Regions from separate parts of the Homo sapiens genome. Here regions 1, 2 and 4 are each linked to region 3. Evidence: fine-mapped expression QTL. A gene starts in region 3. Each other region holds a variant in brackets. All regions are shown on one strand. Distances are from middle to middle.

Evidence for each region.
Region 1: its variant is fine-mapped to the expression of NUB1 in whole blood (TOPMed, PIP above 0.99).
Region 2: its variant is fine-mapped to the expression of NUB1 in whole blood (INTERVAL, PIP above 0.99).
Region 4: its variant is fine-mapped to the expression of NUB1 in spleen (GTEx, PIP above 0.99).

Annotation. Positions count from the first base shown.
Region 1 is chr7:151,383,392-151,391,494 of GRCh38, reverse strand. WDR86 (WD repeat domain 86) reads left to right here. Exons shown (of 6, transcript NM_198285.3): 4 at 6,272-6,407. Among named protein-coding and RNA genes, the nearest start is that of WDR86-AS1, 22 kb to the left of the region's middle. RefSeq lists an enhancer at 3,480-4,142. The variant T/C (reference allele first, on the strand shown) is at 3,791.
Region 2 is chr7:151,370,495-151,378,597 of GRCh38, reverse strand. NUB1 (negative regulator of ubiquitin like proteins 1) reads right to left here. Exons shown (of 15, transcript NM_001243351.2): 12 at 4,355-4,501; 13 at 2,655-2,750; 14 at 1,787-1,964; 15 at 149-1,551. The coding sequence ends at 1,373. It also overlaps a transcript of WDR86 not described here. Among named protein-coding and RNA genes, the nearest start is that of NUB1, 33 kb to the right of the region's middle. The variant A/T (reference allele first, on the strand shown) is at 3,845.
Region 3 is chr7:151,338,416-151,346,518 of GRCh38, reverse strand. NUB1 (negative regulator of ubiquitin like proteins 1) reads right to left here and starts at 4,707. Exons shown (of 15, transcript NM_001243351.2): 1 at 4,673-4,707; 2 at 1,053-1,171. The coding sequence starts at 1,169. RefSeq lists silencers at 4,438-4,617, 4,788-4,987 and enhancers at 4,585-5,086, 6,156-6,245, 6,376-6,435.
Region 4 is chr7:151,394,753-151,402,855 of GRCh38, reverse strand. WDR86 (WD repeat domain 86) reads left to right here. Exons shown (of 6, transcript NM_198285.3): 2 at 2,615-2,756; 3 at 6,660-7,080. Among named protein-coding and RNA genes, the nearest start is that of WDR86-AS1, 10 kb to the left of the region's middle. The variant C/T (reference allele first, on the strand shown) is at 4,811.

The DNA of each region.
Region 1 (8,103 bases), 45 kb before region 3:
GCGACCCACAGAAGGGACCATCTTGCCTTTCTCTTCCCTTGTATATGATTTCTTTCACCCGACACCACTCAGGAAATTGGAGTTTTGCAGGGGTTAGAAGGCTGCTGCCTTACAAGCCAGGTTTGATTAGGGCTATGGGACATTTCTCACACTGTCCTAAACGCAGAGGGGGCTTCCTGACAGAGATTCAGGGGCAGGGAGCCAGGGCAGGAGCCTCATGAGCAGATCCGGGAAGCAGGACTTCTGGGTATGGCGTCCCCTAGCCCTCGCTGGGCCCCGCCCCCGCAGGTGGCTATGTCAGTTCTCCCTCCTGCCTTCTGTGGCTTCTCTGACCGAGGGCCATCGCCGCCACAGCCTTCATCAGATGGGCTGGAAGTGCCGCTCACGATCTGCCTTTCTAGAAGGGCCTGATTGGCCCTCTCGGGTCCAGGAAGCACAGGAGGGGGACCCACAGGATCAGCTGAGGCCTCCCTTTAAACCATTTTCAGCATTTACTCAGGGCGTGAAGCACGTTCAGTGTTGTGCAAGCATCATACCATGATTTCCAGACTTTTCCATCAGCCCAAATCAGAACTCTGTCCCCATTAAACACTGACTCCCCGCTGCTCTTCCATGCCCCGGGCACCCGCCCTTCTGCTTTGTGTCTCTGAATTTGATGACTCTGGGTCCTCACATGAGTGGAGTCGTGCAGGATCTGTCCTTTCCTGTCTGGCTTATTTCATGAGCATAAGATCTTCAGGGTTCGTCTGTGTTGTGGTGTGTGATGAGATTCCCTCCTTTTTCCGTGACTGATAAATATTCCCTGGTATGTGGATACCACATTGCGCTTATCCGTCACCTGTTGATAGACACACGGGTTGCTTTCACCTTTCAGCTGTTGTGAACGGGTGGACGGGATCTGGGTGCATCCTGCCTTCAGTTCTCGGGTATATGCCTGCCAGTGGGACTGCGGATGACTTGGTAATTCTCTGTTCAGCTTTTTGAGGAACTGCCAAAGTGAAATGATTCTTAAGGCGAGTGTAGAGGGAAAGGGATGGGAGGTGGGCGCCGTACCATCCCCTCTGCCCACAGCGTCAGGACGCTGTGCAACTTCCGGAGGCTTCCTGACTGTGGGGGTTGGGGGGACTCCTTTTTCACAATCTGCCAAGTGGGGACACACGATGGCTGCCCCTGGCGTGGCCAGATGGGGTCCTGATGTGGGGGGTGTGCAGTGAGCTCTGGGCTTGGTCTGTTTTCACGGGGAGAGCTCTGTCGTTGAGGGCTGAACCAGGGACTTTTCATCTCCTCCCCTCCAGCTCCTCCCCTGCTCCGCAGCCCTGGCCCTGCGAGTGCTCCGTCTCCCCGAGCTCTGACTGTCCCTTGGTTCGTGGCACCAGGGCTGGCCATTACACCCCACGCTCTCTTGCATTTGGATCCTTTTGGGGCCCCTGCCTCATGGCCTGCCTGGGGCCCTCACTCTGCCTCAGTGCTCTGCTGGGCTGGAGATTGTGCATTCAGCCCCTGGCTCACCGGCACCCCCATCCACAAACTGCTCTCAGGAACATGGCACCCACACACAGGACTGTGTGGCTTCTCCACCCCAACCCAGAAACCCTGTGAGGCAGGCGGCACCATTGCTATCTAAGATTGAAGCAGAGACCTGCTTGTTGCTTTTCTCTGCTCTCGGCATGCAGTCGGGGTCACTGACCCGTGGTCTATGACACCTCATCTCCTTCCCCTTCCTCGAAATGAGAGAGGGCCTCATGCTCACTTCCAGGCGTCCTTCTCCTATGCGTACAGGCCTGGTGGGTGCACCTGAGACCAGGAAGCAAGCTCTTCAAAAGGACTTCACACAGCCCCTGCCCTGTGCAGGGCGGAGCGGGCAGACTCCTTCCCAGGTGCCCTTAAGAGTCCTGGGCCCCCACAGTGGCTTTGCGAGCCCCATTGTGTCGCCTCTGAAATCGTTTTGCCGAAGAAGCGTGTGTGCTTGCAAGTCAAGAGCCAAGGGAGAGAGTGGCTGAGGTTTCCTGGTGGGCCAAGTGTGGGGCGTCTGCTGGGACCCTGAGTGAGCCGCCCGGCGATGGTGCGTTTGAGCTGTGGTGTCTGCACCACTCACATCACACAGGTCAGGCTTCTTTGATTTATGGAGATAAGCCCGTGGGCAGCCTTTCCAGAGGCTGGGGAGGAAAAGAGGAGACCGTGCAGTTTCGCAGAGTCCTGGTCCATTGCTGCTCCTGTAACAAAATACCTTAGACTGGAGGGCCGGGCACGGTGGCTCACGCCTGTTATCCCAGCACTTTGGGAGGCTGAGGTGGACGGATCACTTGAGGCCAGGGTTCCCAGACCAGCCTAGGCAACATGGAGAAACCTCATCTCAAACAAAAAAAAAAAAAAAAAGGAAAGAAAAGAAAAAAAGGTGCAGAATACCTTTGACTGGGTAATTTATAAATAATAGAAATGTATTTCTCACTGTTCCAGAGGCTGGGAAATCCAAGGTCTAGGCGCCAGCACGTTCTGTGTCTGGTGGCTGCTGCTCTTGCCACGTCCTTCGTCTTGGATGAAGGGACAAACAGGCTCCCTTAAGCCCTTTTATAAAAGGGAACTCATCTCATTTATGAGGCGGGCCCTCATAACCACTTTACTTCCTAATGCTATCACAGTGGGGGTTAAGTTCCAGCATGAATTTGGGGGGTTCCGACACTCAGACCATAGCTTCATATACCCCGCCTCCGACCGTCAGCCTGGGGACCAGGTGGCCACAAAGCATCCTCCCTGCTTCCCTGAAGCCTGCAGCCTGCTCCAAGTTGGCCAAAAGCAGAGGTGAGGTCCTGAGAAACCACCGTGCCCAGAGGGGCCTCTGCCTCCCTCGCCTTTTACAGGACTGCATGCAGGGCTGAGCCACCGATCTCAGGGGTCCCAGAAGCCAGGTGGGGACAGAGCCAGGAGCACACAGGCCTCCTTTGGAGAGGGTCGGGCCAGAGATGGTGTGAGGACCTGCTTCTAAGCGACAAACCCAAGGTCAAAAAGCCAGGGGGCACCCTGTCTGTGGTGGCCCTGCGCTGCAGGGCAGCCCTCTCCCCTGCTCTTTGAGGGGTCGCCCAGGTTCTGGGCTTGACCTGGGGTCCTTGTGAAGGAGGAGAGATAGAGTCTCTGCCCTGTCCCTTCATGGTTTTACAGAGATGTTTTAAACATTTTAGTTATAAAACATTTCAAATGTAAATTGTAAAAAATAACTAAAACAGACACCTATGCACCCAGTTTTGAAATCAGATAGCAACATTGTGATTTTAAAGAAACGAAGCATTTCAAATCCAGCCAGAGAAAAGAAAGACCTACAGGATCTGGGAGCCCGAGGTGGTGGGGACCACAGCAAGGATGTCGTGGGGCAGTCTCTGGCTGCAAAAGCCCTGTCGTACCAGTTCATGAGTCTCACCCAACCCTGAGGAGCCGGCGGGCAGAGATTGCACCTGCGTTTTGGGGATGGGCGGGGGTTACCATGTTCAGGCCCTGGGCTGCGTGTGGCGCACAGCAGTGCATCAGCCCTTGTGGCCTCGTTCTTAGCAGGAGGTCCTTGTTTCTCACGTTGCACATGAGACAGTGGAAGCTTGGAGAAGATGAGTAACTTGGCCACGTCTCACATCTGCTGAGGGGTGGAGGCAGGATTTGAACCCAAGACTGTGCATCTGTAAGCCCCGTGCCTGTGACCACCACAGCTGTCACCAGGCAGGTGGTGCGTCCCCCGACACTCTTGCTTGGGAGGAGTATCTTGGAGGGTCTGCTGCTCTGGAGCCTGCCAGGCCCTCTGCAGCCT[T/C]CTCCCACCCCTGCGGGGCTCCCTTGGAGCCCGGGGAGGTGGAGGCCCGCATCTGTGCCCTCAGCGGCGGAGCCCCGGGCCGGTGCCTCTCCTGCTTCTGCTTGGTTGGATCTCATCGCTGGGAGACTCCTCAGAGCCGCCGTGGCTGCGAGGAGCCCTCAGGATCATCCTGCCTTCCCCCTTGGCTCAGGCCTCCCTGGGCCACCCCGCTCTCCCTGTCCTGTCAGGAAACCAGCTAGAGGGAACAGCAAGGCCTCCACAGGCTGAGGACCCTGGGGCTGGGAGCGCCCCCTCGGCCTGTGTGGCTCTGGCTCATGTTCGGCAGGGTGCTACTGGGAGGGCTAAGCACAGTGCTCACAGGCCCTGTGTGGTGAGGGCCGGCTGCCAGGGAACAGGAGGGGCTTCCCTTTGTCCTCTCCTGCCCTGGTCACCCAGCAAGCCTCCTGCCCTGGTCACCCAGGAAGCCTCCTTGGTGCAGGGGCTGAGCAGCACAGAGGTGTGGGGCTGCAAAGCTGGCCAGTCCTTGGAGGTCTCAGTCTCAAACATTCCACCCTTGCCCACTCCTCTTATTAGAGCCTGAGAGGCTCTGTGACTGTCTGGGACGCAAGCACAGGGAGCCTGGCTGGCTCTGGAGCTGACCATGTGTTGGGGAGATGGCCAGGAAACGCTGCGCTGGTGGTGGTCAGCCCAGCCTCCGGGACACAGACACAGTGCCCTGGGGGCGGTGCGAAGAAGGATCCTGGGCTTCCACTTGCCGATGAAGGAAAAGGGAGGATCACAGTACAAGGGCTTTCTGGGCAGGGAGGACTTGTAGGAAACCTGGGAGGAAGGCACGTGCCCAGAGGTCCTGGGGCAGCAGTGTGGACACAGGTGTGTGGAGTGGAAACCAGGATATAGGGCCAGGGAAGCTGGGCCCTGCAGGGCCTCCGAGCCTGAGGCAGGAGGGGTGGTCTTTCTCAGGAAGCAGAGGGGCTGTTGAAGACTGTAAGCAGCTGACTGTGTGCCCGGCAGGCTCAGGAAGGTCCATTTGTCCTTCCTGCTGGTGCCCGCATTACTGGCAGGAACTGTGCTCCTGGGTGGTGCAGATGGCTGAGGTCTGAGTGCAGGAATGTTCTGGAACCCTGCCAAAGCTGACACGGGCAGGTAGGCAGTATCCCTGTCCTTGGGGAGGGGACCATCCAGTTAGGGAGGCTGCCTGGGCTGGGGCCCACCGTAACCCCAGCAGGACTTCAGGGCAGGGCCTGAGAGAGGGCAGGTGACTGTCCACAGGAAGCACCTGCAGCCTCTGCCTCCCAGAGGCCACATTGTGCTCCTCGTGGTTCCACTGCCTTCTCTGGGCACAGTGATTGGCCCAAGGCCAGTTAACTCCTTTGACCTGGGCTGTGGCCCGGGTCGTGGAAGCTCTGTCCTCTGGGATTTGAACAGGGAGATAATATGGGGAACCGGCAGTGGAAAGTGGCCCAGAGCGTGGTCGTGAGGGGAAGGTTAGGAGGGACGTGTTCGGGATGCCAGTGGCCAGCGTGAACTGACTGCCTGCCGGTGGGCCCACTGCCTGCCGACCACAGGAGAAATGCCCTGTGTGCCTGACCCGCTTCTGACTCCTGGTTCCTGGGCCCTAGCAGTAGTGGCAGGAGGCCTCTCTGGGGCATGAAGCCTGCGCCTGTCTCCTGTGCCATCGCGCCAGGTCACTGCAGCTGTGGAGCCCGCCTGCCCGCCCTGGCCTTCTCGTCCGTGACTGCTGACCAGAGGTGCTGGCTGGGAGTGCTCTTGGCTGGGTGGTGTTTAGTCTAGGGGAATTTACAGAATTATTTTAATAGTCTCCGCACTTCCCTGGGGCCGCTACTCCCGTCCATCTTGGCGAGGGCCTCTTCCCTTGTCTCCTGGGCCCTCTCCGTACCTCCTGCGAGACAGCAGCATCACATGGCTGGGTGAGACTGTCTCCCGGGCCCTCTTCTCACTGTGAGCCCCATGAGCAGGGGGAGCAGTGACCCCGTGACAGTCCCCGGCTGTCAGCTCCAGTCTTGGCAGAAGTCTGCCTCACACCCTCGCTCAGGGCTTTCTCTGTCCTGTCTGAAGCAAAAGCCCCATGTGAAAGCCCTTCTCTGGAAGCCCTCTCCTCAGCCAGCAGGAGCGAGCAGTTAAGTGCCTGTACCCCACACACACCCTCGAGGAAGGGGCTGTCCACATCCTAATCCTCAGGGGAAGCAGCTGAGGGGCAGAGAGCCAGGGACTGGCCCAGGGCAGTGTGGGGCTGGGCGGCCAGCCCTGTTGGAGCACTGGCTGCCCCATGGGGCAGGAGCAGCCGCCTGCTTTTGGGTGCTGAAGTGGGCAGTCTGGTGGGGCCGGTGGCGGGGCCATTCGAGGCTCACCCATGGTTTCACCACTGAGACCTGCACATGCCCCTTCCCCCCTTATAGAGGGAGAGGTCTGGGGGGCTTCAGAGCTGCCCCAGCTGCCGACCTTCCCTGCTCCTCCTCGCAGCTGGTGAACCGACTCGTGTACTCTGGCAGCGCGGACAGGACCGTCAAGTGCTGGCTGGCAGACACAGGGGAGTGTGTGCGCACGTTCACGGCCCACAGACGCAACGTGAGCGCCCTCAAGTACCACGCGGGCACCTGTAAGTGACTTGGCCCTGCACGACCTGTGCCACCCCAGCCTGGCTTCTCCTCTCTGCTTCTTTACTTCCTATGGGATTTTCCCTCATTGAGCCTTGGCTGCCAATCATCAGCGTCCAATGGCAGTGCTCGTTCCTTCTCCACACACCCGTGCTTCCAGCTGTTTTGCAAAGAAGGTGCAAATAAGGGTTTGGTGGCTCCTCCCAACCTTTCTCCAGGACAGCCTGGGAGACTGGACTGCTGGGAGGGTCTAGGGTCAAAAGCATGTCCCAAAGGGTGTATCCTAATTCTCCAAGTGAGACAGTGACTGCCCCTTAATCCTGCCAGCCTCGAGGGCCACATGGCTTTGGCCTCACTTGGCCTTAGGATTTGTCTGCAGAGAAGAGAAAATCCAGGTAGCTGTGGTTCCAATGAGGTGGTGGTTTATTTTCTCTCAGGTAGAAGAATTTCAGAGGCTGGTGGTCTCGGCTGGAATGGGTGGCTCCACAAAGTCATCAGGCACCCAGCTTTCTTCTGTCACTCTTCTTCGTCATCCTTAGCACAGACCTTCTATCTTTAAAGAAGCCTCATGATTCAAGATAGCTGCTACAGTGCCAGCCATCGTGTCATGTTTTAGGCAGGCAGAGAGAGAGGATGAAGGGCGAAAGGACGCGTCTTCTAGCTGAGTTGGTCCTTTAAGATCTTTCCTGGAAGCTTCATCCAAGGGCTTCTACATACCTCTCTGTGACCATTCTGTCTGCAAGAGATAGAGAATCATAAAGTCTTTTATCTGAGGAATTTGCTGCCCAGATGGAATCAGGGTTATTTTGGAAAGAAAGAAGGGCAGAATCGCTTGTTGGGCAGGCAACCTGCTGTCTGTCCTACAGGTCTCAACTTGTCACACTCTCGGGCCATTTGGCTCTGCCTCTGGGAGGGAGGAGACTGGGTTGGGGAAGAGTCACAGTGGAATATTCAAGTTGACCTCACAGCAAAGGTGTTGGATGAAGACAGAATGTAGATATCTGAAAATAGATCCTGACATGCCCTCAGGATTCAGGTGTCTGACACAGAAAAATTATTTTTCGTTTGTTCCTGTGTCCAAGGCTGGAAGTGTGGTTACGGCTCTGTTCCCAAGTCTGGGTCCTCTAATTGAACACGAGGAAGGTTCCACTCTCAAAGGCTCTGGCCGGCGGCCGCCTAGAACACCTCCCCGTGCAGCCGGGGCATGGAGCCCGCAGGGAAAGCGAAGCCTGCAGCTCACTGTTGCCCAGCTCGGTTCTTGGTCTTGGCCAGCAAGGCTATGGGATGATCAGACTTTGTTTTTGATCCTCTTCCCACCCGCGGGGAGCTCAGCAGCCACACTGGGTTTTCCAGGCCATGTCCATTTGTCTGAGTTTGTGGGGGGAAGGCAGAAAGGGGCTGAAAAGAGACCCAGAAATGAAACTTCCCCTCTGGGGCCATTCACTCTGTAGTTTTAACAAAAAGGCTGGAACAGGCTGGGCACCGTGGCTCATGCCTGTAATCCCAGCACTTTGGGAAGCCAAGGCGGGAGGATCTCTTGAGCTCAGTAGTTCAAGACCAGCCTGAGCAACATAGCAAGACCCTGTCTCTACAAACATTTTTTTTTTTTTTTTTTTGAGACGGAGTCTTGCTCTGTGGCCCAGGCTGGAGTGAAATGGCGCAGTCTAGGCTCACTGCCACCTCCACTTCCCAGATTCA
Region 2 (8,103 bases), 32 kb before region 3:
TGCTTCTGAGATCATCCTTCCATCATCTCCTCACAAAACTCAGTGGAAACAGACATCCTGCAATCAAAATGAAGAGCTAGTCACCCAGACACTTTCAACACCTACAGCTGGGGAGGCTGAGTAAATTAATGCAAAATTAGGGTGACAATTTTTGAATATATTTCCCACCTTTTATTTCCATCGGTATCATCCGTTTAAAAAGAATGACAAGAAGATTCCCATCAGTCCAAACTGGACCACCCACACTTTGAAAAAGTTGGAGCATTTCAGCCGGCTCCGCATGATCCATCCTGTCTTCAGTCAGTGCCTTCTGGAAGGGAGGGAAAGTCTTGGATGCACCTGGCACTCAATCCACTCGGCACCTGGCTGCTGCTGTGGTCCTGGGGCTGGAAGGAACTCCCACTGGGCACACATCTACAGAGGAGTGCGTGGCGCAGTGAGGACGGTTACTGCTGGAGCCGACACACAGCGAACTACATACTTTTAGAAAGAGCCTCTGTCACATGGCTAGAACAACAACAACAACAAAGAAAACCCACAAAAAACCTGGAGAAAATATATCTAAATCTCTGATAGGTCTCTTAGCTAGCAGTGAGTTCAGTATGACAGCACAGAGTCTAAAAATATTAATTAAAAATAAATTGCTTTGGTTAGCATTTAAACCTTTCCCATTCAATAGAAGATTTCTGTAATGAGGAATGCTGAATATATATAAAGCCTGACACTCAATCTTGAATTTCGGGGGCGTATTTTACTGAACTAAGAGCATAAAACACTGGCGTCCCAGGCTGAAGCCATTTGCTGCGACCTGGTGTGGCCCCCAAGGCCAGCGCCTCATCGTTATGCCCCACAGCACTTGGAAGGAAGACTTAAAGGACGATTTGAGGGGCGGGGAAAGGGTGGCACAGGAACCCATGTGGCACCCTGGCAGAGATGGCAGCGTGGGAAGCAGGAAGGTCAGGGCAGTGGGTGCAGGAGGCAGGCAAGCTGGGCAGATGGAGCCACAGCTGGAGAGGAAGCGGTCGGGACACCCTTCCCAGGACCCTGCCCTGGACACCTTCCCCAGGACCCCTGTTCTACAGGACCCCTGTTCCTTCCTGTTTCGGGGTAAAACACCAAGCTGGGGAAGGGGTTAGGGACGCAGACCTGGGAGGCAGATGGAACGGCCTGCGCCAGGCCAGAGGAAGCTTCTTCCCCGAGACCACGCATGAAGGCCCTGGGACCCCTCCTGGACTTGTCCCCTGCCCACCCCCTCCTACACCCAAAGAGGACTTGTAATTCAGATAAAAAGTAAGAACAGAAAGAGCTGCATTAGCCTTTTCATAATGATAGCATTTATAAGCAGAAAATTAGCGCTATTTCTGTTCATTATTTAGTTTTTCTTTGTTGCTGACTTCCTATTTTCTACATAGGATAGGTACTCTGCAATAATAATTTCTTCATCTTCCAGAGTTGAGTCAAGATAGTCTTCCTCATGCTCTGGAATGTCTTCCAGTATCTCATTGACGGCCTCTGTCTCCATGTCTTCGTCTGTTGAGGCACTAGAGGTTCCTACAATAAAATACCGCAGGAGTAAGTGAATTATGTGAGGATTGTCCTGGGGACACTGCACGACCACAGTCAACCTCAGACTGTGCCTCTTGCTGGCCACACTGTCCAGGTGGCCGGCCCGGTGACGTCAGGGGACGCCCCCTCAGTCTCCACATCTGCCGTGGCTTAGGGCCACATCTGTTGGCTTCTGAAGACACTTTGCTCTCAATGCGGCCCTCAAAGACCTCAGACCTACCTGCGGAGTCAGAAGGGGACGTGGCTGGCGGGGACAAAGAGTCTTCTGGCGACAGCGGCAGCTCGGGAGGCAGGCTTCCTCCGTTGTGAGCAAGGGTCTGGGCGGCCAGCTGGACGTTGCCTCTGAACACTCTCAGCGCAGCTTCGGCCACGAGTGCATCAAAACCCATGTACACCAACTAGGGGAGAGCGCAGGGGTCACAGCATCAGCCCCTGGCGCCTCTTCTGCCACCCCCGTCAGCCATACGAGTGGACAGCCGACTCTCATGTTTAAGAGCTCCCGGCGTGTGCACCATGGCCCTTTGTGCACAAGTCATGCTTCTGTGCAATGTGAGCGTAGAGCAACCTGGAAGGGGGCTTGGAAGACTCAAGTCGGGTGCGTCAGGGAGCAGCCATCTCAGGACAGGCAGTGACCTCGGGCTGAGAGCAGGGCGCCACACCAGCCTCACCACGAGCACCGCGAGGTCAGTGGCCACAGCATACAGGCGTGCTAACGCGTGTAGGGGCACAAATGTGGACAGAGCCGTCACTTGGGATACAAAGCTGGATGGGTTTCCCAGGTCACAGTGCCATCCTTTTAGGTCACAGGCAGAGAAATGAGGCTGATGCAAACAGTGGTGCATAGACAAAGGCAGCAAACCTAAAGAGAACTTCCTGACACTTCCCCAGTTTTCCTGCTTTCCAAGGAGGCCTCCCCTGCCCTCTGTTACTGCGTGGGTGGCCTCTGAGGTGGGCAGGTTACACCTGGAGCCTGGGAGCCAAGGTTTCAGCACGGACTCCCCCAGTCCTGCTGCCTGATTCACCCGGGTTACCCCAAGCAACCCCACCCGAGGCTGTCCAAGCTGAGGGCACAAAGGCCTGTCACTCACTCGGTCAATGTTTTCCTGGGAAGGACTTTCTTGACGGTTGTCGGTTTCAGGATTGGAATCATTTAACCACCACATCTGAGGATTGCTGAGCAGAATCTAAAACACACAGGAACACCCTTTACCCATCACTAAGAACTCTTCACACATTCAGACAGGCGCTGCACCCTGCCATGTGCTAGGCAGACCCCGCCGTCCTCTGCTGCTATGAGGCAGAGAAAGGGGCTCCCACTCAGGCTGGTGTTCACAGAAGGCTTCCAGCCAGAGACCAGGACAGCTGGGGTTTGAAGGAGGAGCAAGACTAGTCAGGGAAAAGATCCCTTCTGTTAGAGCAGGAAGGGATGGAGAGCAGGTGGAAGCAGCATCCAAGAAAACAGGTTTTGTCAGAGCTACAGACAGAAAGGTCTCAAGCAGCTCAGGGCTGCCTGATTGATCTTTGAAAGCGTCATGCCCTCTAGACTTAAAATGTCAGGCAGGTAGTAGGGTTATTTTGACCCTTGATTTCTTCATCACACAATACTTAATCTTCAAAGACCCTGTGGAGACTTTCCTTTCCAACACTCAGTACTTCCATTTTGACTGGAAGTATTTTTGTGCCACTCGTATAATTCACATCTATTTTGAGACCCATCAGTCCCTTCGAATATTCAGAATTTCCCACCTCTTAATATTTCTCCAACACACAAAAAAACGAACTAGATGATATTCAAATAAAAATTTAAAATTTAACGTATATGTTAAATATACATGTACATAGTTACAAAAGTACTGACTTGTGGAGCCTTCCGGGGAACAGGGCAGGGATAAGAGGCAAAGGCAGGGTGGACTCCCCGTGCCTGCTGCACCCACACCCGCCTCAGCAGGGCAAACGAGGACACCTGCCCTGCACCCCACCCCCTCCAACCCCATCTCTGTCCCCCCAGCCCCGCCCCCAGCACGTGCACAACCTAAGCCAGCTCCTACCACTCTGCTTCCTGCCCGCCGCGCTGCCCCAGCATCTGTCTGGACTGCTGCCTCCACACAGCCAGCCCCCTGCCTCCTGTGCACCCCCTCGGGACCCCTCACCACGTGTGCTCTGAGTTTGTCTCTCACTGACCTGCGGGGCCGAGAGGGCAGAGGGTGGTTCCATGCCAAGCTGCTGAGACGCAGCGCAGCACCTGCCCTACTGAGGATTCGATATGCTTCTCCAACAC[A/T]GGGAAGGAAGTGGCCCAGGTAAAGTCACTGCTGTCTGGATCCCAACCTGCTGTCACTCCTGAGGGGTTCTTTGAAAAGCTCTCCCTTTGCCAACATGTACGATGGACTAAATAAATAAAACTAGATACTTACATTTAAAATTTTAATGCCAAACAATTATACTACAAGTTGAATTCCCATTCTCTTTTTTCTGCCGTGGAAACTGCCTGTTTCACTAAACTCTGCTGCACACAGAAACCCTACACAAAGTCCTGGCCTGTGGACTGTGCTGGTGTGGACAGGCACCACGTTTTGGAGCCAGGCCTGGGCCAAGCACTGAGCATGGGGCCTCACGTGGCCTCACGCAGCCTGTGTCTGGGCTGGAGCCCAGGAGAAACCTGCCCTTCAGATCCGGATGACGGGGCAGCCCATAGGAGTGAGCCCGGGAGGATGCTGGAGAGCCATGGAGGGAGCTCTGGGCAGGACCCACTGCTCAGGGACAAGGCCAGAGGCCCCGAGGGAGCTGCTACCTTCAGGGCCTCATCCAAGTTCCCGCTGGCTGCGTGGAGTACCTGCTGGGCCGCGTGCGTGGAGTAGCCCATCCCTTTCAGAAACCTGATGTTCTCGAGGCGGCGTCTTTTCTTCTCTTTTTCCTCCTTCCTTATTTGGGCCAGTTCCTTTAGGAAAACAGCAAAGTCCCATCCCAAGTTAGGGACTGAGATTTCACAGCCTCTCAGTCTGCGCTCTGCAGGATTCTCCGCATTTCCAGGCAAAGCCAAAAAACCAAAGCAAAGCACAGGGGGCCCTCTTTCTACCTCTCCTCACCCAGCCAAATGGCAGAGGTGCCACAGAGGCAGAGGGGTGGTGGAAGTGCTGCTTCTGAGGCAGGCAGTGGAAGTGAGATGCCCGTGGGGCAGGAAGGAGGTGCCTCGCCAGCCCCGCCATCCACCATCCGGCATCAGGATGGGCTGCTCGCCAACCCAGCACTCCCACTGCAGAGGTCGCGGGTGTGAGGTGCATGGATTCTCTTCTAGGAACCAGGTAGGAACCGGGTAGGAGAGCTTCTGCACGCGGTGGGAAGGCCTTCCAGCCTTCGATGAATCGCCCAGGGATTCAAGTTAAAATGTGATGTGGAATCAGGGGCTCCTGGGCAATGCCAAAGCTGGTGACCCGCCCCCCACAGCCTGGGGAGCAAGGACTCCAGGGCCTTCTGAGGCCTGTCATTCCATTCGGAACCCACAGAGTGCCCAGAGACAAAGGTCATCTAACCTCTTGGTTCTCAACCCTGTTTCTCAGAGTTGCCTGCTATTGCTGCAGGAGCGCAGGACGGCTGCAGAGGGTTCTAGTCTCTTCACCTCTCCCACCCAGGGCCAATCAGGAGAGTTCCCAATTTATTTTGTAAACTAGTATCCCCATAAAAATGTCATTTAAAAAGGGGATTTTGCTGCTTAAAAACAACAACAACAAAGCAAGTTTGAAAACCAGGAATTTAATCCAACCTCATTATTTTCCCAACAAGGAGACAGAAAGCTTTCAACAAAGTTAAGTGACTTGCTACATTCTCCCAGGGAGACCAGCCCCACCATCAGCAGCAGCGAGGACGGGGGAGAAAACAGACTCCTTCCTTCCAGAGACCTGATCCTGCCTCCTGCCCAGCCCAGGCAACAGGCGCCTCCCTGCATTTTCCCCACAGCAGGAAAGCGGCCTCATCTCTTAGGAAAACAAAAGCATCATCATTGTGGAACCAGACTCCACAGGCCCCACAGTAGGAGCAGGCAGAACAGAGTGGCTGCTGGAAACATCTCCAGGGATGAAGACATCTGTAGACTCATGGCCTGTCTCTATCACAGGAGAACCTCCTGGTGTGGCCCTGGAGTGCCCACAGCGCCAGCTCCCTTTGCTTCCCCTTCAGCTGCACCAGGCCTGTCTCATGCCCCCATTACGTGCTCTACCTCTCAGTGGCCAGTCTCCCCCAGCTCCAGCCCCGCTGCACAGGGCAGCAGGCTCCGTCATTCCAGTCACCTACCTGAAAGCCCGCAGCAGCTCCTGACCACCTCCCCACACTGAGGCACCAGCTCCTTATTCTGCTACTCAGGGCCCCCACTCCCTGGCCCCAACAATGCTTCGAAACTGACCTTATCCTGCCACACCACCCCAACCACACATGCCAGCAGGAGTCTTTCATACCACTCACATTTGCACTTTTATTTACACATACTCCATGTAAAATGCCTTTACTGGCCCCATCCTCTGCTTTCAATACAGTTTCTTCCATTTATATTCCAAAAGGCTAAGAAGCGCACCTAACATCCAAGCACAGAGAAGGACGCTGCCAGCCAGCGGACCTGGGCATTACCTAACACAGACCTCACACCAACTGGGAGCTTCGAAGAATACTTCCTTTCATTACAAATGTCTTAGTCTGTTTCCTTTTAATCATGTAAACACATGTGAGAACATTATTTTCTGAAATTTCTCTTTATACTAAGATGAGTTAGAAAGATAAAGTAGATCAAATCAATGACAGTGAGTACTGCACTGAAGTGGCTACAGTTAAGTAGAATCAGATCTCAAGAGAGAGGCACTGTATGGTCACAACAAGCTGGGATGGCCTCTTAGGAAGGCTACGTCTCACGGCCTGGCCATGCCGAAGCATGATCTGTGAGCTCCGTTTCTACAGCTGTTGCTTTTCTCAGATGAGAAACTGGTCTGTACTCAGGGCCATATTGCACAAAAAATATAAACTTTTAATAATTATGTATTAAAGGCTGGGTGCAGTGGCTCACACCTGTAATCCCAGCACCTTGGGAGGCCAAGGTGGGAGGACTGCTTGAACCCAGGAGTTTTGAGACTGGCCTGGGCAACATGGTGAGACCCCATTTCTACAAAAAAATAAAAATCAGCCGAGAGCTCTTGGCAGGAGGATCATTGGAGCCCGGGAGATCAAGGTTGCAGTGAGCCATAATCACGCCACTGCCCTCCAGCCTGGACAAGAGAGCAAGGCTCTGTCTCAAACAAAAACATGAACGAATTGTTTTACATTCAGCTCAGTCAGATGCTCATACCTAGAACGTTGGAACTCCGAGGGCAGCAGATTTCTCTTGCTCATCTAAAGCTCCGATAGGAGCTCACTTTCTGTGGGACATTGTTTTTGTCTTTCCAGCACCCATTCTACCCCTCCCTGAGGTGTGGGAGGCTGCTCCAGCTCCCCAGGTGGCCCCTGAATGGGCTAAGGTGGCAACCCTCTATCTCTTGCCACAGGCCTGAGCCAGTCTTGGCGTTCCTCCAGCCTCAGTGACAGGTTCAAGGCTGCCCAATCACAAGAAGCTCAGGATTTTCCCTGAGGATTCTGGGACACAGATTATGGCCCTTGTTGTGACTGGATGACACTGATGACATGGGGTGGGGGGTGGGGGTAAAAGACAGACCTCAGGTCCTCAGTGACATCAGTAAGCCACTGAATGAATCACCTAACCCTGAGACCTATCCTACTTCTGGACTTTTTACAAGTAAACGGCCAATAAATCCCACCACATCCCTTGTTTTGATGTTTAGGCCATTTTGGGTTTTTTGTTGTTGTTGTTGCTTTCAGCCAAAGGCATCGTAACTAACAACATCTGTTGGGTGGAAGAGGGAGAAGGATCAACTGCACTATATACACTGGTTTTTTTATTTGCATTTTCTCCAAGGGCTTTTAACTTCAGAAATGTACAAGTGATATGACTCCACTATACTTTAAAAGACCACCTCTGAGCAACAGCTCTTCCCATGTGTAAGATGAGAAGTACCTGTCCTGTGGCCTCTCGGCTGGTCACAGGCAGAAGTGAATGACATGAGTGTGACAATGTTTTATGAACTATAGTCTTATACAGTGATGAGAACTGTTTTCCAAATGATCTCATTTTAAAACACTAGCTTTCCAGATGCTAATAAAATCTTACTTCATTCTCAGTAAACTATCGCAAGAACAAAAAACCAAACACCGCATATTCTCACTCACAGGTGGGAATTGAACAATGAGAACACGTGGACACAGGAAGGGGGACATCACACTCTGGGGACTGTTGTGGGGTGGGGGGAGGGGGGAGGGATAGCTTTAGGAGATATACCTAATGCTAAATGACGAGTTAATGGGTGCAGCGCACCAGCATGGCACATGTATACATATGTAACTAACCTGCACATTGTGCACATGTACCCTAAAACTTAAAAGTATAATAATAATAAAATAAAATTAAAGGAAAAAATAAATAAAAATAAAAATAATAAATTCTTACTG
Region 3 (8,103 bases):
GAGGGGAGGGTGGAAAGTTTCAAGTGTCTAATCACGGCTTGGTACTTTTGGTGACCAGCCCCATCCTGAAGCTATCTAGGGGCAACCAAGCCTCATGAGCACAAAGGTTGCTCCTATCATGCTTACCACTTAGGAAATCCCAAGAGTTTTGGCTCTGCCAGGAACCAGGGACAAAGGTCAAATATTTTTCCTTTATGCCACACCTAGTTTCTAAACCAAGAGACTGTAACAATAAATTCAGAAGCAAGGTCAGAAGGTGGGTTGCAAAGAAAAAGTGAGGCCTGCCTGGAACAGAAGAAACAGAAGAACTAGGACCCTAATACAGTTTGTCACCTCCCAAGCACATCATTATGTCACAACACAGAGCAATTTAATGCCTCATGACAATCCTTAGTCCCTGATAAATGTTACATCATGTTCAGGATACTCTGAATGAGAGCAGAGAAGTACATGCTAGGAAATTCCAGTATGATAGATTTCTGGCAAAAATGAGTACTGTTTCTCTGCTTAGAAAAGCAAGCAGACTTCAGTTTCTAGAAACATCACTTACATACAATATCATTTCTGATGATGCCATGAAAAACTGAGATACAACTGTTAGAAAAAACCTATTTTGGAAAAATGAACACTGATAGTGAGAGCATCAAAAAAACTGGGGGAAAAAGGAGCAATTGTTTCACAGCAGATGATGATAGCAAGGAGGACCGAGAATGAGCCAAGACACTGTCACTTTGAACACACAATGCAATTACTTACTGGCACCAATACTGTTCCACTAATGGGTCAAAATGAGTTCCAGATAAATAATGTTATGTAATCCTGTGATGGTATTAAAAATATATGCCTGAAAAATTAGATAACATCCTCATGTGAATAAAATATTAATGAACAAAAATAAGGTTGTCAGTTCCTAGTAAAAAGTGGGTACCCGCTCACCACTAATGCTTTTGGTTATGCCAAAAGTTTATATGGTCATGCCTGACAATTCAGAATCTTATTTACCAAGGAGATTTATAATGCTGCTAATTATTGATGTCTTAAAAGAAAAATACCTTTAATGCCAAACCAACTTTTTTATTTTCATCTGTATATGGAGGTTTCCAAAGTTGAATCCTGTCTTCCCTTAAAAACTGGGTCAATTTTGCTTGAAGATATTTCTTTTGTGCCATCCCTGAAAGCAAAACAATACATTAATAAAACTCCACATCGCATTTTAAAATGTTAATAACTTACCTACATGTTAAGGTGCTTTGTTGGGTAAGCAAAGCTCCCTTCCTCTGTCATTAAATATAAATTACTATGGTTTAAATGAGCTCCAGACTTCTCTAAAAATATATATAGAAATATATGTTCAATTATATATATTACATATATAAAATATGTATTTCAAAGTTGCTAATATGTAGCAAGGATTATTACATGTTTCTATTTCTTAATCTGCTATTCTCTTATCTAAGAGAAAAGAGAAAATAAGAGAAAGATAAATCCCTCGAGTCGTGAACTTCTTTTTTTCTTTTTTGAGACGGAGTCTCGCTCTGTCGCCCAGGCTGGAGTGCAGTGGTGCGATCTCGGCTCACTGCAAGCTCCGCCCCCTGGGTTCAAGCAATTCCCCTGCATCAGCCTCCCTACTCACTGGGATTACAGGCATGCGCCACCACGCCCGGCTAATTTTCATATTTTTAGTAGAGACGGGGTTTCGCCATGTTGGCCAGGCTGGTCTCGAATTCCTGACCTCAAGTGATCCACCCACCTTGGTCTCAAAACGCTGGGATTACAGGCGTGAGCTTGTAAATTCTCTCATACTTTGGCTAGTTTAACATAAAACAAAAGGCCAACCATCCTGGTAGTTAAATATAAAGAAAAGCTTGCTTGAACTGTAAACTATCGATAATAAATATTTTCGGATGGGTGTGGTGGCTCAGGCCTGTAACCCCAGCACTTTGGGAGGCTGAGTTCAGGAGCTGAGGTCAGGAGTTCGAGACCAGCCTGGTCAACATGGTGAAGCCCTATCTCTACTAAAAAAAAAAAAATATATGAACAATTAGCCGGGCGTGGTGGCAGGTACCTGTAATCCCAGCTACTCGGGAGACTGAGGCAGGAGAATCGCTTGAATCCAGGAGGCAGAGGTTGTAGTGAGCCGAGATGGCACCACTGCACTCCAGCCTGGGCAACAGAGTGAGACTCCGTCTCAAAATAATAATAAATATATAAATATTTTCTATGTCAGAATTTTTTAAATTAAAAAGATTACAATACTAGGAAAATTTTGCATATTTTCTGATTAACAGCCTAACAGCACATCTACTTTTTTTTTTTTTTTTTTTTTTTTTTTTTTTTTGAGAGGGAGTCTCACTCTGTCGCCCAGGCTAGAGTGCAGTGGTACAATCTCGGCTCACTGCAAGCTCCGCCTCCCGGGTTCACGCCATTCTCCTGCCTCAGCCTCCCCAGTAGCTGGGACTACAGGCGCCCGCCACCACGCCCGGCTGATTTTTTGTATTTTTAGTAGAGATGGGGTTTCACCGTGTTGGCCAGGATGGTCTCAATCTCCTGACCTTGTGATCCGCCCGCCTCGGCCTCCCAAAGTGCTGGGATTACAGGCCTGAGCCACCGCGCCTGGCCCTACTATTCAAATCTAACACTGATCGGATCATTTTACAGCTGAGAAAATTAGGGCCCTGAGTTTGTACCATGACTCAGGCAAAGACACAAAATTAGGCAGCATCTTAACGAGCACAACTTCCACCCACAACACTGGACTCTGAACTTCCGTCATGGAGTCCCTTGCTGCTTGCCTGTTCCAGGTATGTAACTTCTCTCTCCCAGAGAAGTATGTACCGCGATGGAGCTGTCTACTCATCCCATACTAGCACAGCAATTCAAAGGTGAGTGAGGCGGCTGAGATGTAAGGCAGCTGGCAGGTGTAGCACAGCGCTTTAAGGTTTCCCAAATCAGACAAGCAATAAGTAAAGAAAAATGTTATTAGCCCCTGAATGATGAAGACAAGTTCTAGAGAGTGGAAAAAATATGAGTTAATATTACCAAGATAAATTTCTTTCTTCTATTGAGGGCCAGTATTCCACATCCCCCCAAACCCAATTCACACAACTTTGAAATCTTTGAAAACTTTGGTAGCTTGTGTATTTCATAAACAAATATTTTTTAAAAGAAAGTTCAAATCTATTTTATGTCAGTGCGGGGACAAGAATTAGGCTAATCAGGACAGGGAGGAGAAAAGAGAGGAAGGAATAACACAGCCAATGAGGCTGCTGTGTGCAACCTGGGTGGCCCATGGGAGAATCCTCCATTTTTCAAGCACTGACAAACGGCTTATCACAGCAAAGCATATTAGTACTTAGAGCGTTAGCTTTTCAAACACAAATAACTTTAAAAACTACTTTACATACTACTCATGAATCTTCAGAAATTCTGAATAAAATATCACAGCAACCCTACTGTCTCCCCACTGGGGGACAGTAATTTCACAGGCTGGTTACTGGAGCCAAGCAATTTGAAAGGCTGATGCGGTACTCAGAGATGCCATCCAAGGCCGGGCGCGGTGGCTCACACCTGTAATCCCAGCACTTGGGAGGCCGAGGCCAGTGGATCACCTGAGGTCAGGAGTTCAAGACCAGCCTGGTCAACATGGTGAAACCCCGTCTCTACTAAAAAAATAAACAAATAAAAAATTTTTAAAAAGATGCCATCCAAGCCACCACTTGACAGAAGGACGAAGGAGTGTTACAAACCCAGTGCGTGTCAGACACTCCAGGGAGCAAACAAGAGCTCCAGGGTTACACCGAATAAGATTTAATGTTAAAAAAAAATTAAACCACTGTCTTGAAACTTAAGGAACTTCAGTTATAGACAACAGAGTAAGTGGCGACATATTTTAAGTCAAGTTTAATAAGTCAGTTTTTAATTTTAACTGAAATGAGAACTGAAAAAGTTTCATGCATGCCATACAATGTTTCACATTGTAACTAAGAAAAGACGAAACTCATTAATATCACTCCGTGGTCCAAGCAGAAAGTGAAACGTTATAACGATCCTTTAAAAATTTCACTTTCACTTTTGTAATGAATCGATCATTGCTACATTTAGCCACACCTTTTCAAGTATACATTATATATAGTTGAAACACAACTATATCTAGTCAAGACACATTCATTTTTTCTTAGGAAAATGAAAGATTCTTGATTAAAAATAAAAGGGAAGGAGGTGAGAATGATAGAATCAGGTCGTCAAGGTTCGAGAAAATCAAGTGTCTTGTCATTAAATAGCAAAGAAAATCTGGCTTTGATTGCAAATAAATCCCAAATGGTATACTCGGAGTGTTACGATTCAAGTATAGCATTTGGCTAATTTTTTATAGACATATTTATTCCTTTCTCTCCCCAAACCGATACACTCAATATTTTCTTTTAAATACCCCACACCTCTGCCTAACTCAGGGCAAACCAAAGGGCCCCGAACGGCCAGCGCGTCCCGAAGCCCGGCCCACCGCTCCCGGCCCCGGCCCCGGCCCCGGCCCAGCTCCACGCATGGCTGCTCACCCCCGCCCCGCGGCCGCTCCACCCCTGGCCAGGAGAGGTGCCCAGTCGGACCGGGAACCGGGGCGCCAAGCAGTGCTGCTGAGGCTGGGGTCGAGGACACTCGGCCGCCGTGTCCTCACCTGCGCCACGCCACTCCCGCCGCGACCAGCAGAGTGCCCGGATGCGGCAGCGGCCGCCGTTTGTTTTCATTCCGGGTGAGGCCAGCCCCGCCCCCGCCGCCGCTGTCGCCTTCGCGCCGCCGCCGCCGCCGCCGCTTGGAAAGAGGGTTGTGGGCGGGGCCAAGGCGAAGCCAGCTGTGGGCGGGGATACGGTTGTGTGGGCGTGGTTACCGCGGGGCGGAGCCGCGACGGGGCGGAGCTAAGCGGAGGCGGGGCTGGGCGAGGATGTGGCCGTGTGGGGCGAGGACCTGGGAGTTGGTGTCCAACGCCACCCCAGGCTCAGTCTTCCAGGACTTCCCGCCCGGGCTCAGTTTGCCAGCCATCAAGAGGAAATGGATCCTGGCTTTGTTTCTCCAGAATCCTTGAAAGAGGCTGGGGGAAGGGTCGGGACCGTCCCAACCCGCATCTCATTCCTCAGCCTAGGCTGGACCCCTTCCCTAAACCAGCGGCTTTTCACCCCGCCCTCCACAAGCCCACCAGGGGCTTCCCTGGGGTGAAATTAGGCTGCTTCCCGGGAATTTCCTCCCCCATGCTGTCCACGGCCACTAGGGACCACAAGGCCTAGGGAGCTCTGCCTACTTCCAAGGTCCTATTCCCAAGGCTGTGCTCAACAGTGACGCTTCTATTTTATTATCAGTTATTGCTGTTAATCTCTTACTGTGCCTAATAAATTAAACTTTATCGTAGGTATGTACGTATGTATAGGAAAAATGAAGTGTGTGTATATATATAGTATATATATATGTGTGTGTATGTAAAATGGGGTGCAGTACTATCCGAGGTTTCAGGCATCCACTGTGGGTCTTGGGACACACCACCTGTGTGTGGACGAGAGGGGACTCCTGTAACCTTGCAGTGACCAATCCGTTTTTCGTTCCCTGTTGCTGCTTTCTTTAGCCCTTTTCTACCTATAAAGCCCACCTCCTCTGCCCAGCTCGTTGGAGCACCGTTTCTAAATTTTCAGAGAAGATGCCATCCTGATTCATGAATCAATAAAAACCAATAGATCTTTAATCTAAATTTGTGGTAATTTTGACTTCTGACAAAGGGATATTAATAACTGTATAACCGCACCAGACCAATCTGATTCGCCTTTTATATACCCAAGTTGTGAGTTGTTTTTCAGTTGCATGGACTCCCAGATGGAAGGTTTCGCACGTAACCTGAGGATGCCCAGGTGAACCAAGCATGCAACCAGGGGCGGAACCTGAGTGCTCAGATCAAAGCAGGGACTGAATTAAGAAATGGGCACTGCATGGTGAGATCCAGAATGCAATCAGATCAAGCCCTGGTGTCACCCCATGGCAGGGTCCAGTCAGATGAGCATCCCAGCATCACCTCATCGCAAAATCTAATCCGATCATGCGTCATTACCCTATGCTTATAAAACCCAACCCAGCCCCAAGCTCAAGGAGACAGAGCTGAGGGTTTCCTCATGTCTCCTTGACAGTCAACTCACAATAAAGCCTTTCTTTTCTCAAAAGCCCGTGCCATGGTGTTGGCTTCTAGCACATCAGGAAAAAGCCCGTTGATTGCTCAGTAGCAATTGCAGCAAGGTAGAAGGACAACAGAAACTGTTCTGACATTTTTTTCTGAGGGCTTTCTCTGAGATGAGTAACAAAGATAGTTTCACTTTTACATTTACGTAGTAGACCATCAGGAAATTGAATGTCCACGCTCAGGTGTGATGGAGCAGCTTGCAGTAGACCAAGGCTCCCACTAACAACAACTAGAAAAGCCAGAAAGCGAAGTCAGAAAACATCTGTTTGAAGGCAGTGAAAGCTGCTGAGGCAAGAATGGGGGGACTTGATATTCCAGAGAATGAGGAACCTTCAAGGGGTGAGCTAATGTCTGCAGTGGCTTGTATTGGTGTGTGAGGGCTTTTGCCAGTTCTGGATACAAGCATGAGGCTGAGAATTTAGACTTTGAGACCACAGAGGGCCACTGCTGGGGACACAAAACCAACACAGCGATGTAGGGGGAAATTCCAAGGACAATTGCTGAATTCAAGGCTTGTATGGGGCAAGAAACTGAAATGTAAATGGAAGGCCTCTGAAAGCAGAAGTTTTTGATAGACTTGCAAAACAAAGATTCGAGTCTGAGATCTGCTAGGGTGGTGGTGGAAGTGGGTTACTGCAGAGCCTACACCATGTTCCCAGTTGGAAACTGGAGGGCAACGGTAGCTTGAACCCTACCAGAACCTCAGCCCAGCCTTCACTCCATGCAGTCCCTGATTGGATTAAGGTTATTGGCCACTCCTGTCTTTGGTTTTGTGGAGGAAAGGGAAAAACCCTCCTGAGAGAATGATAACATTTGAAGCCTCTACAACTTTTTAGAAGCTATATTTGGCATCTCATTAAAAAGTTACTAGATAAAAAAAGAAAAAGACAATAGAAACAGACCCACAGATGAGTCAGATATTGGAGTTGCCTGATTAAAATAACTCTGATGAACATTTTCAAGAAAACAGAAAAAAAGATGAAAATTTTCACCTGAGTATTGAAATCTATAAAAATAAATCAAATGAAAACTCTAGAGGTGAAAAGTGTAATAAATGAGGCTGTGAACTCTGGATGTTAGACAAAACTAAAGACACGATTAGTGAACTGCAGGCACATCAATAGAAAATATCCAAACTGAAGCATAGAAGGAAAGAATGGAAAATACAGAAACAAGCATTAGAGACACATGGGACATGATGAAAAGTTCTACCAGGTATTCAGGTTTCTAGAAAAAGAGAGAAAGGGGCAGAAACAATATTTGAAAAGATAATAACCAAGAGTCCAAGTTTCGCAAAACTGATGAAAGACATCAAATTACAAATTCTGTAAGTTCTATGACTCCTAAGCAGGATAAATACAAAATCAGCCACACCCAGTGCATTCTAGTAGAACCATTGAAAACCAAGGAAAAAGATAAAATCTTAAAAGGTGCCAGGGCCAGGTACGGTGGCTCACGCTAGTAATCCCAGCACTTTGGGAGGCTGAGGCAGGTGGATCACCTGAGGTCAGGAGTTCGAGATGAGTTTGACGAATACGATGAAACCCCGTCTCTACTAAAAATACAAAACTTAGCTGGCTGTGGTGGAGGGCGCCTGTCATCCCAGCTACTTGGAAGGCCGAGGCAGGAGAATCGCTGGAACCTGGGAGATGCAGGTTGCAGTGAGCAAAGATTGCACCATTGCACTCCAGCCTGGGCAACAGATTGAGACTCCATCTCAAAAAAAAAAAAATTAATTTAATTTAATTAAACAAAAAAAAGGTGCCGGGGAAAAGATGCATTGCCTTTTAAGATTGTCAGCTGACTTCAGAAACAATAAATCCAGAAGACAATGGAATGGCATCTTTAATGTGCTAAAAGAAAATACACATGTTTAGTTCAACGTTCCTTAA
Region 4 (8,103 bases), 56 kb before region 3:
GGCTGCTAAGCAATGCCTGAGGCATAAACATTGATCTGGCAGCCAGGGTGATAGTCAAGCTATCTAACTGCACCCATGAGATAGAGTCCCAACCAGCTGGTGGGGTAGCTCAGGTGCTGAGACCCCAGACACCCTGGCATGGCCCTCCACTCTTGGCCCTCCATTCTGGCCACATCCCGGCCTCATCAGTCATCTCTACCGATCACTCAGACTCTGGCCTGGAGGTGCCCCATGGAGCCAGTCCCTGCACGCCTGCTTTCCTAGCCGCTGTTCTCCCTACGGGCACCGAGTCACCCTCTTCCTGGTCTCCAGTGCTCAGGCTTCTCTCCCGAGCCCCAGCCAGCCGCTGCCAGTGGGGTGCCGAGCCCTGCTGACCACATGCTGCCCTTGACTGTCTTCCCTTCTGGGCCTGGAGCTCCCTTGGAGGGCAAGGCTGTGTTTCATTGTCTCTGTGTCTATGTTAGTGTCCTGGGGCTGCTGTGACAAAGGAGGATGCTTGGTGCCTGGAAACAAGTGAAGTTGATTCTTCACAGTGCTGGAACCCAGAGGGCTGAAATGAGCGTCCCTGGGATGAAAGCAGGGTGTCAGCAGGGCCACATCTAAACCCTGCAGGGAACGGTCGGTTCCTGGCCTCTTCCAGCCCTAGTGGCTGCTGGCATTCCTGCGCTCGTGGCCACATCCATCTCTGCCTTCACCTTCACGGCCTCCTCTTCCGAGTATATCACATCTCCCTGGCCTCTCTCTTGTAAGGACATTTGTGGAGATATATATATATATATATATATTTTTTTTTTTTTTTTTTTTTTTTGAGGCAGAGTTTTGCTCTGTCACCCAGGCTGGAGTGCAGTGGTGCAACCTCAGCTCACTGCAGCCTCCGCCTTCCGGGTTCAAGCAGTTCTCTGCCTCAGCCTCCCGAGTAGCTGGGATTACAGGCGCCCACCACCACGCCCGGCTAATTTTTTGTATTTTTAGTAGAGACGGGGTTTCACCATCTTAGCCAGGCTGATCTTGAACTCCTGACCTTGTGATCCACCCGCCTCGGCCTCCCAAAGTGCTGGAATTACAGGCGTGAGCCACCGCGCCTGGCCACTTGCGGTTGTATTTAGGACCCCCCGGATAATCTAGGATAATCTCCCCAGTCAAAGTCTTTACCTCGTCACATCCACAAAGACCCCTTTCCAAGTAAGGTCACATTGACAGGTTCCAGGGATTAGGACCTGCTGTCTTGGGGCCGTCATTCTGCCTACCACAGTATCTCTCCCCAGTGTAAGGAAAATAGCGAACATGTGCCATTCCCTCTGCGGCTGCCTCTGTCCTCAGTCTGCGCTACATCCCGTGAGGCAGGCATTGTCCCCATCCCAGGTGAGGAAATGTGGAATGCAAAAGCTGAAAGGTTTGAAAAAGACTAAAAGGAGATGATAAAGAAATGAGGAGGGAAGGAGAGGAGGGAGGAAGGCAAGAGTGGAAGCTGAGGAAACAGAGGGTTTAGGGTGCAGGCGAGTGCCCCTGGATTGCTCCTGCTGTTGATGGCTGCTGTGAAACCTCAGTTCTTGTCTTCTTAGTTTAACAGAATTGAAACAGGAGACACACAGCAAAGGAGATGCAGCATAGAGCAATGTATTGCACAGGAGGAAGAATACCCTGAAAGTTAGGTGCAGAATAGGCAGGACGCCCCAAGAGGGGAGTCAGGGTAGGCTGCCTGTGAGGATGAGAGAGCAAAGACCGGCTGGAGGGAGGATCCCTTTTTAGGAGTCTTACCTGATTATTCATGAGCAGGTGGGCAAGGGGGTTGCTGGGAAGCATGTTCTGGGTGCTCATGCACAGTGGCTGTGCATCCCTGTTCATACGTCACATGTCTCACTGGCATCTTAAATCTCCATCCAGGGGTGTGTTTTTTACTATTGTAATGAGCAAAGGGTCACTGTGAGGACCGGTAAAAATCAAAGTGCACGTGCTCTCTACAGGGGAAAGTCCCTACTGAAGATAGCTTTGCTTGAATGAGCTTGCCTGCAGTGCGAATGCTGGGGCTTATTGTGTTGACGGCGCAGTCGCCATGGTTGCTGCGTCCTGAGGACATGGTTACTTCCCTGACTATCTGTCGTGCCTCACTGGTACCCCGTGCTTTCTGAGAATCACTCAGACTGAAGTCATTCTTTAAGAAGGATGAGTTGAGGGCTGGGCGCAGTGGCTCACGCCTGTAATTCCAGCACTTTGGGAGGCCAAGGCAGGCAGATCACTTGAGGTCAGGAGTTCGAGACCAGCCTGACTAACATGGCGAAACCCCATCTCTACTAAAAATACAAAGAATTAGCCAGGTATAGTGGTATGCGCCTGTAATCTCAGCTACTCAGGAGGCTGAGGCAGGAGAATCACTTGAACCCGGGAGGCAGAGGTTGCAGTGAGCCCAGATCGCGCCACTGTACTCCAGCCTTGTGACAGAGTGAGACTCTGTCTCAAAAAAACAAAACAAAACAAAACTAATGCTAATTGACTCCAGCTTGTCTCAAACACTCCCTACATCCTGCTTTCTTCCCTTTTCAAACATTGTTCCCAGAAGAAAAGCAGGAGCTGGCATCCCCAGTACGCTCACATCTCCCCTGTCCCTCATCTGCAGGACATGAAAGCTATGTGACCTTCTGCCAGCTGGAGGATGAGGCTGCCTTCACATGCAGCGCCGACTGCACCATCAGGAGGTGGGACGTGCTGACCGGGCAGTGTCTGCAGGTGTACCGAGGACACACGTCCATCGTGAACAGGTCAGCCTGGCTGGGGGCTTGGGCTGAGTCTCACCATACATAGGCTTCTGGTGGGGCTGAGGGGTCAGAGATATGGGCCCCTGCACGTGAGGGCCCTTGGCTCTCTGGGGAAGCAAAAACGTGGACAGCTGGGAGGTGGTCAGTAGCACCCAGCGACGTGGACCCAGGACAGGCAGCGAGCTCAGTGCCTGCGGCTGCATGTGGGGCAGGGAGGCACTGCCCATCCACTGAACAGAGCCTGATGCTTCCCCCTTGGGGGCACAGTGGCTCCCCGCTGGGTGCAGGGAAAAGCACCAGAGCCTACAGCTCGTAGGGATGGGGACAAATTCCATAGGAAATGGCTTAATTGAGACCCGATGGTGGACCAAAGGTTTGCAGGAGGAGGAGTGTGGGGGATTGTTCCGAAGACGGAGTTGAGGATATTTTTAAGCCTCTCCTTTCTTTGTAGCTGTGGAAAATATCCCAGCCCCTCCTTCTCAAGAAGGTTGGAATTGTTCCTTTCTCAATGAATTTGGGTCTGAGCTGAGCAATGGAAATTCCTTTGCTGATCAGATCAGTTGGACACTGTTGGAGTCACTTGTGGTGGTCACCTCGGACTCCCGAGGGAGGCCTCCTGGCGCCCCTGGGCCTGGCAGCTGCACTGGAGGAGGGGCGCTGCCTGGAGGGTGACCCAAGTAAAGACAGGGCTGGCGCAGGCTGGCACGAGGGGGTCCTGAAGGTGGGGCTGGGGGCGCAGACCAGACAGGATGAACCCCACCAGAGGAATGCTGTTGGTTGAGCTCTGACAGGAACCCCCAGTCAGTGGACCAGCGCATGGGGGGACAGGAAAGGCAGTGAGACCCATCAGCCCAGCTCGCTGGAGTCGCAGGTGGCTGCAGCCAGGAATAATAATCGATAGTCGATGGACGGGGAGCTGGGTGACACCCTGAGGAGGAGGCTGAAGGGATGCGGGGACTTTTTAGAGTGAATGGGGGGTATATGCAGACACAAGGTAGGGTGGCCGTCTGGCCCCGGCCTTCCTCAGCTGAAGCAGGTGAGGCCCTGAGACCTGCCCAGGCAGCCCACAAGGTGGTAAAGAAGGGGCTAGAGTGAGAACTCAGGGCTCACAGCTCCACTGGCCTCTTCCCAGCACTCTGACTTCCCTGAGAAAGAAGTTTGCCATGAAAGAAGAGAGTAGGGCTGGGGGAGCGCCCTCCTGTGAGTCAGGCAGAGGCTGCAATGGGCTCAGCGGGGAGAAGGCCTGCCTGCAGTGACCAGTGGGCCCTCAGCTGCCAAACCCACAACTGTCAGATGCTTCTCAAAAGCAAAACTGGAACATTAAAGGTAGAAATCATGCTCGGCCAGATTTACTCTCACATGTGCACACACAACTTACACATACACATGTGCGCACACACACAACATACATATACACCATACACACAACTTACACATATACACGTGCATACACAACATACATACACACTCATACACAAACTTACACATACACACGTGCGCACACATACATATACACATACACCATACAAACAACTTACACATATACACGTGCATACACAACATACATACACACTCATACACAAACTTACACATACACACGTGCGCACACATATACACATACACACCTTACACATACACATGTGCACACACATACACTCATACACAACTTACACATGTGCACACACGCACAACATACATATACACCCATACACACAACTTACACATACACATGTGCACACATACACAACATACATATGCACTCATACACAACTTACACATGCACATGCAACTTACACACATACACACAACATACATATGCACCCATACACACAACTTACACACACATATGCACACACAACACACACATGCACACACATAGACACACAACTTACACAAGCAACAAAACATACACATATACACACAAAGTACATGCAGGCACACATTGTGCACACAACACACATGCACATATACACATATGCACACATGTTCACATGTGCTCACAACATATACAAACACACACACTATTTTGGATCGGTCACAGCTCCAAACCCATAGCT[C/T]TGTGTAGATATTTGCATGATTAAGTAACTGTCCTCATAAATCAGGAACTCACTTCCTCCCGAGTTTTCAGAGCCAGGTCAGGCCTGTGAGCTTTGGGGTCACCGATCGTTCAGTGGCCTGGCATCCCTGCCTTCTCACACCAGGCAGGACTCAGCCACCCCCTCCATACCCCAAGGCCTCCCGCTACACCCTTCCTCCCGCTATGCCCTTCCTCCCGCTACACCCTCTTCCTCCCGCTATGCCCTTCCTCCCGCTATGCCCTTCCTCCTGCTACGCCCTCTTCCTCCCGCTACACCCTCTTCCTCCCGCTACACCCTCTTCCTCCCGCTATGCCCTTCCTCCCACTACACCCTCTTCCTCCCGCTATGCTCTTCCTCCCGCTATGCCCTTCCTCCCGCTATGCCCTTCCTCCCGCTACACCCTCTTCCTCCCGCACTTTGCAGCAGCAGCATCAAGGCATCATTTCCTTTAAAAATACACGTAATCCCAGCTACTCGGGAGGCTGAGGCAGGAGAATCGCTTGAACCTGGGAGGCAGAGGTTGCAGTGAGCCGAGATCGTGCCACTGCGCTCCAGCCTGGGCGACAGAGTGAGACTCCGTCTCAAAATAAATAAATAAATACATGTTTTGTGACAATCATCCTATCTGGGTCTCAGGGAAGAAGCCAGTTGGAAAGGGATAGTTGGCATTTGAGTGGAGTCATGTGTCGTTGAGCTGCTTGCGGGAAGTGAGGAATGCTGTTGGGATCCTGTGGAGGCGGGAGGCAGCAGGCTTGTCCCGAGTGGGTCTCCTGTCCATGCCAGGCTGGCCAGCAAGCCCTTCGCGGGAGGACGGGAGGAGCAGCAGGGCCGGCCGTGGTCCTGATTCAGGAGGGTCCCACCCCGGCAGGGATGCACCTTGTTACAGTGCAGCCACGGCCGCACCCCTTGGCGGTCTCCTCTCCTGAGGTGCAGGGCTTCTTACCAAGGGTGTGTGCTCAGACCTTCTGAGGTTCTGTGCAAAGCTCTGCACTAAAGACAAATGTGTGTTTTTCTGGGGAGTTCTTGGCTTCCATCAAAATGAAAATAAGAGTCGTGAATACAATGTGGGGGCCTTGGTCTCCCATGTTGGTCAGTTGCACTGAATGGATGGACTCTCTTGGCTACCCAACCCCCAGTTCCCAGCCATGTGGCTAGAACCCTGTTGAGGCTGTGACCTCAGTCTGCATGGGGATTGCTGTGAGAGCTGGCAGCAGAGGCCCCCACTGGCTGTAGCGTGACCCCTGGCTGTGCCTCCCACAAGCACCCCTGGGTGCACTATGGGAGTTCCCAGTGCTCTCCAGCTTCTCAGGGCCCTCATCTGAAGTGCCCTGCCCAGCCACTTGAGCCGGCCCTGTTCCCAGGGTGACCAGCGTGTCCCACTCTGCCCTGGACTTTCTCAGTCTTAGGCTGAAAACCCTAAATCCCCAGAAGCTTTTCAACTCCGGGCAAGCTGAGAGGGCCGTGCTCCCCTACCTTCCCCCCCACCCGCTTCCCGCTGCTCCCCTACCTCCTCCCCCATCCCCTTCCCGCTGCTCCTGCAGAGCTGCTGTGGGGATGCTGGAGGGATCCCAGCGGAGCATCTAAGCTTGGTCCCTGCTACAGGTACATGCCCAGGGGCAGGCAAGGAAGGGTGGGCATGAGGGGAGTCAGGGTAGCTTCCTGGAGGTGGGGGCGATTTGAGCTGGACCTTGGAAGACGAGTGTGGCAAGCTGGGCAGACACAGGGAGAGGTTATTTTAGCTGCAGTGCCGAGCATGGCATGTCGGGAGGCTGTGTGGATTCTGGAACCCGTGCCTTCTGATCCCTGACCCCTTCCCTCTTGCCCCCAGGATCCTGGTTGCCAACAACCAGCTCTTCAGCAGCTCCTATGACCGGACAGCTCGGGTCTGGAGTGTGGACAAGGGGCAGATGTCCCGGGAGTTCCGGGGCCACCGCAACTGCGTGCTGACCCTAGCCTACTCTGCCCCGTGGGACCTCCCCAGCACTCCCTGCGCGGAGGAGGCCGCGGCCGGGGGGCTTCTGGTGACCGGCAGCACAGATGGCACAGCCAAGGTGTGGCAGGTGGCCAGCGGCTGCTGCCACCAGACGCTGCGGGGCCACACGGGTGCAGTGCTGTGCCTAGTGCTAGACACGCCCGGCCACACGGCCTTCACAGGCAGCACCGACGCCACCATCCGTGCCTGGGACATCCTGAGTGGGGAGCAGCTGCGGGTGTTCCGGGAGCACCGGGGCTCCGTCATCTGTCTGGAGGTGAGACTGTCCTGGTCCCCGCCCAGCAGCCAGGGGAGCCCAGGTCACCCCCTGCACTGCCGCCCTGCCCTGGGTATCTGTGATTCGGCTGCATAACAAAGCGCTGCAGATGGGGGCCTGGCAAGCGCCACGGAGGCCTTGCGGTCCTGGGGCTGGGAATCCAAGATAAGGGGTCCGCAGTACTGGTTTCCGTGAGGCCTCTCCTTAACCTGCAGATGCTGCCTTCTCCCTGTCCTCGTGTGTGTGTGTGTGTGTGTGTGTGTGTGTGTGTGTGTGTGTGTCCTAATCTCTTCTTAGAAGGACACCAGTCATACTGGATTAGGGCCCCCCTATGAACTCATTTTAACTCAACTGCCTCTTTTAAAGACCCTCTTTCAAAAAGGCCACATTCATAGGTACAGGGGTGGGGTAGGGCTGCGACACGTGAATCTGGGGTGGGCATGATGCAGCCCATAACACTCAGCTTCTGAATCTGCATGCTGGGCCAGAGCTGGGGCGGAGCCTGCCTGCAGGGCGCCTGGAGCGGGTGTTGACTGTTTTCCTGGTTTGTCTTTGTGCTGTCAGGGTGAACGCCGGCAGCCTCCTGGGCTCCGTCCTCATGGGTTGGGGACTGGGAAGTGGCCCATCATGCTATAAGCTGACAACCAGGATAGAGGAAGCACATAGCGCTGTAATGGTGTGGCCGTGTGGGACGTGGGGTTGCTGCCCCGTCTCCGTTGCCTCCCCTGGACAAGCCACCCAGCCTCTGTGGGCCTCAGTTTCCTCACATGTACAGGGAGGATTACGCCCCTTCTTAATTCCTAAATCCAAAAAGTTCCAAAAATTGAGAAGTTTTTTCTTAAGCTTGGCACGAAAACGCCTGGTGGCAGAGTCTGGCCTGAAGAGACATGTGACTGTGTGTGCTTCGAACATCCCGGTGCCTGGGGGTTCTCACGCCTTTCCTGCAGATGCAGGAGTGTGTCTGTAAGCCAGAAAATCCTCGAACGCATTGTCCCAAGGTTTTAGATTAGGGATTATGGTATG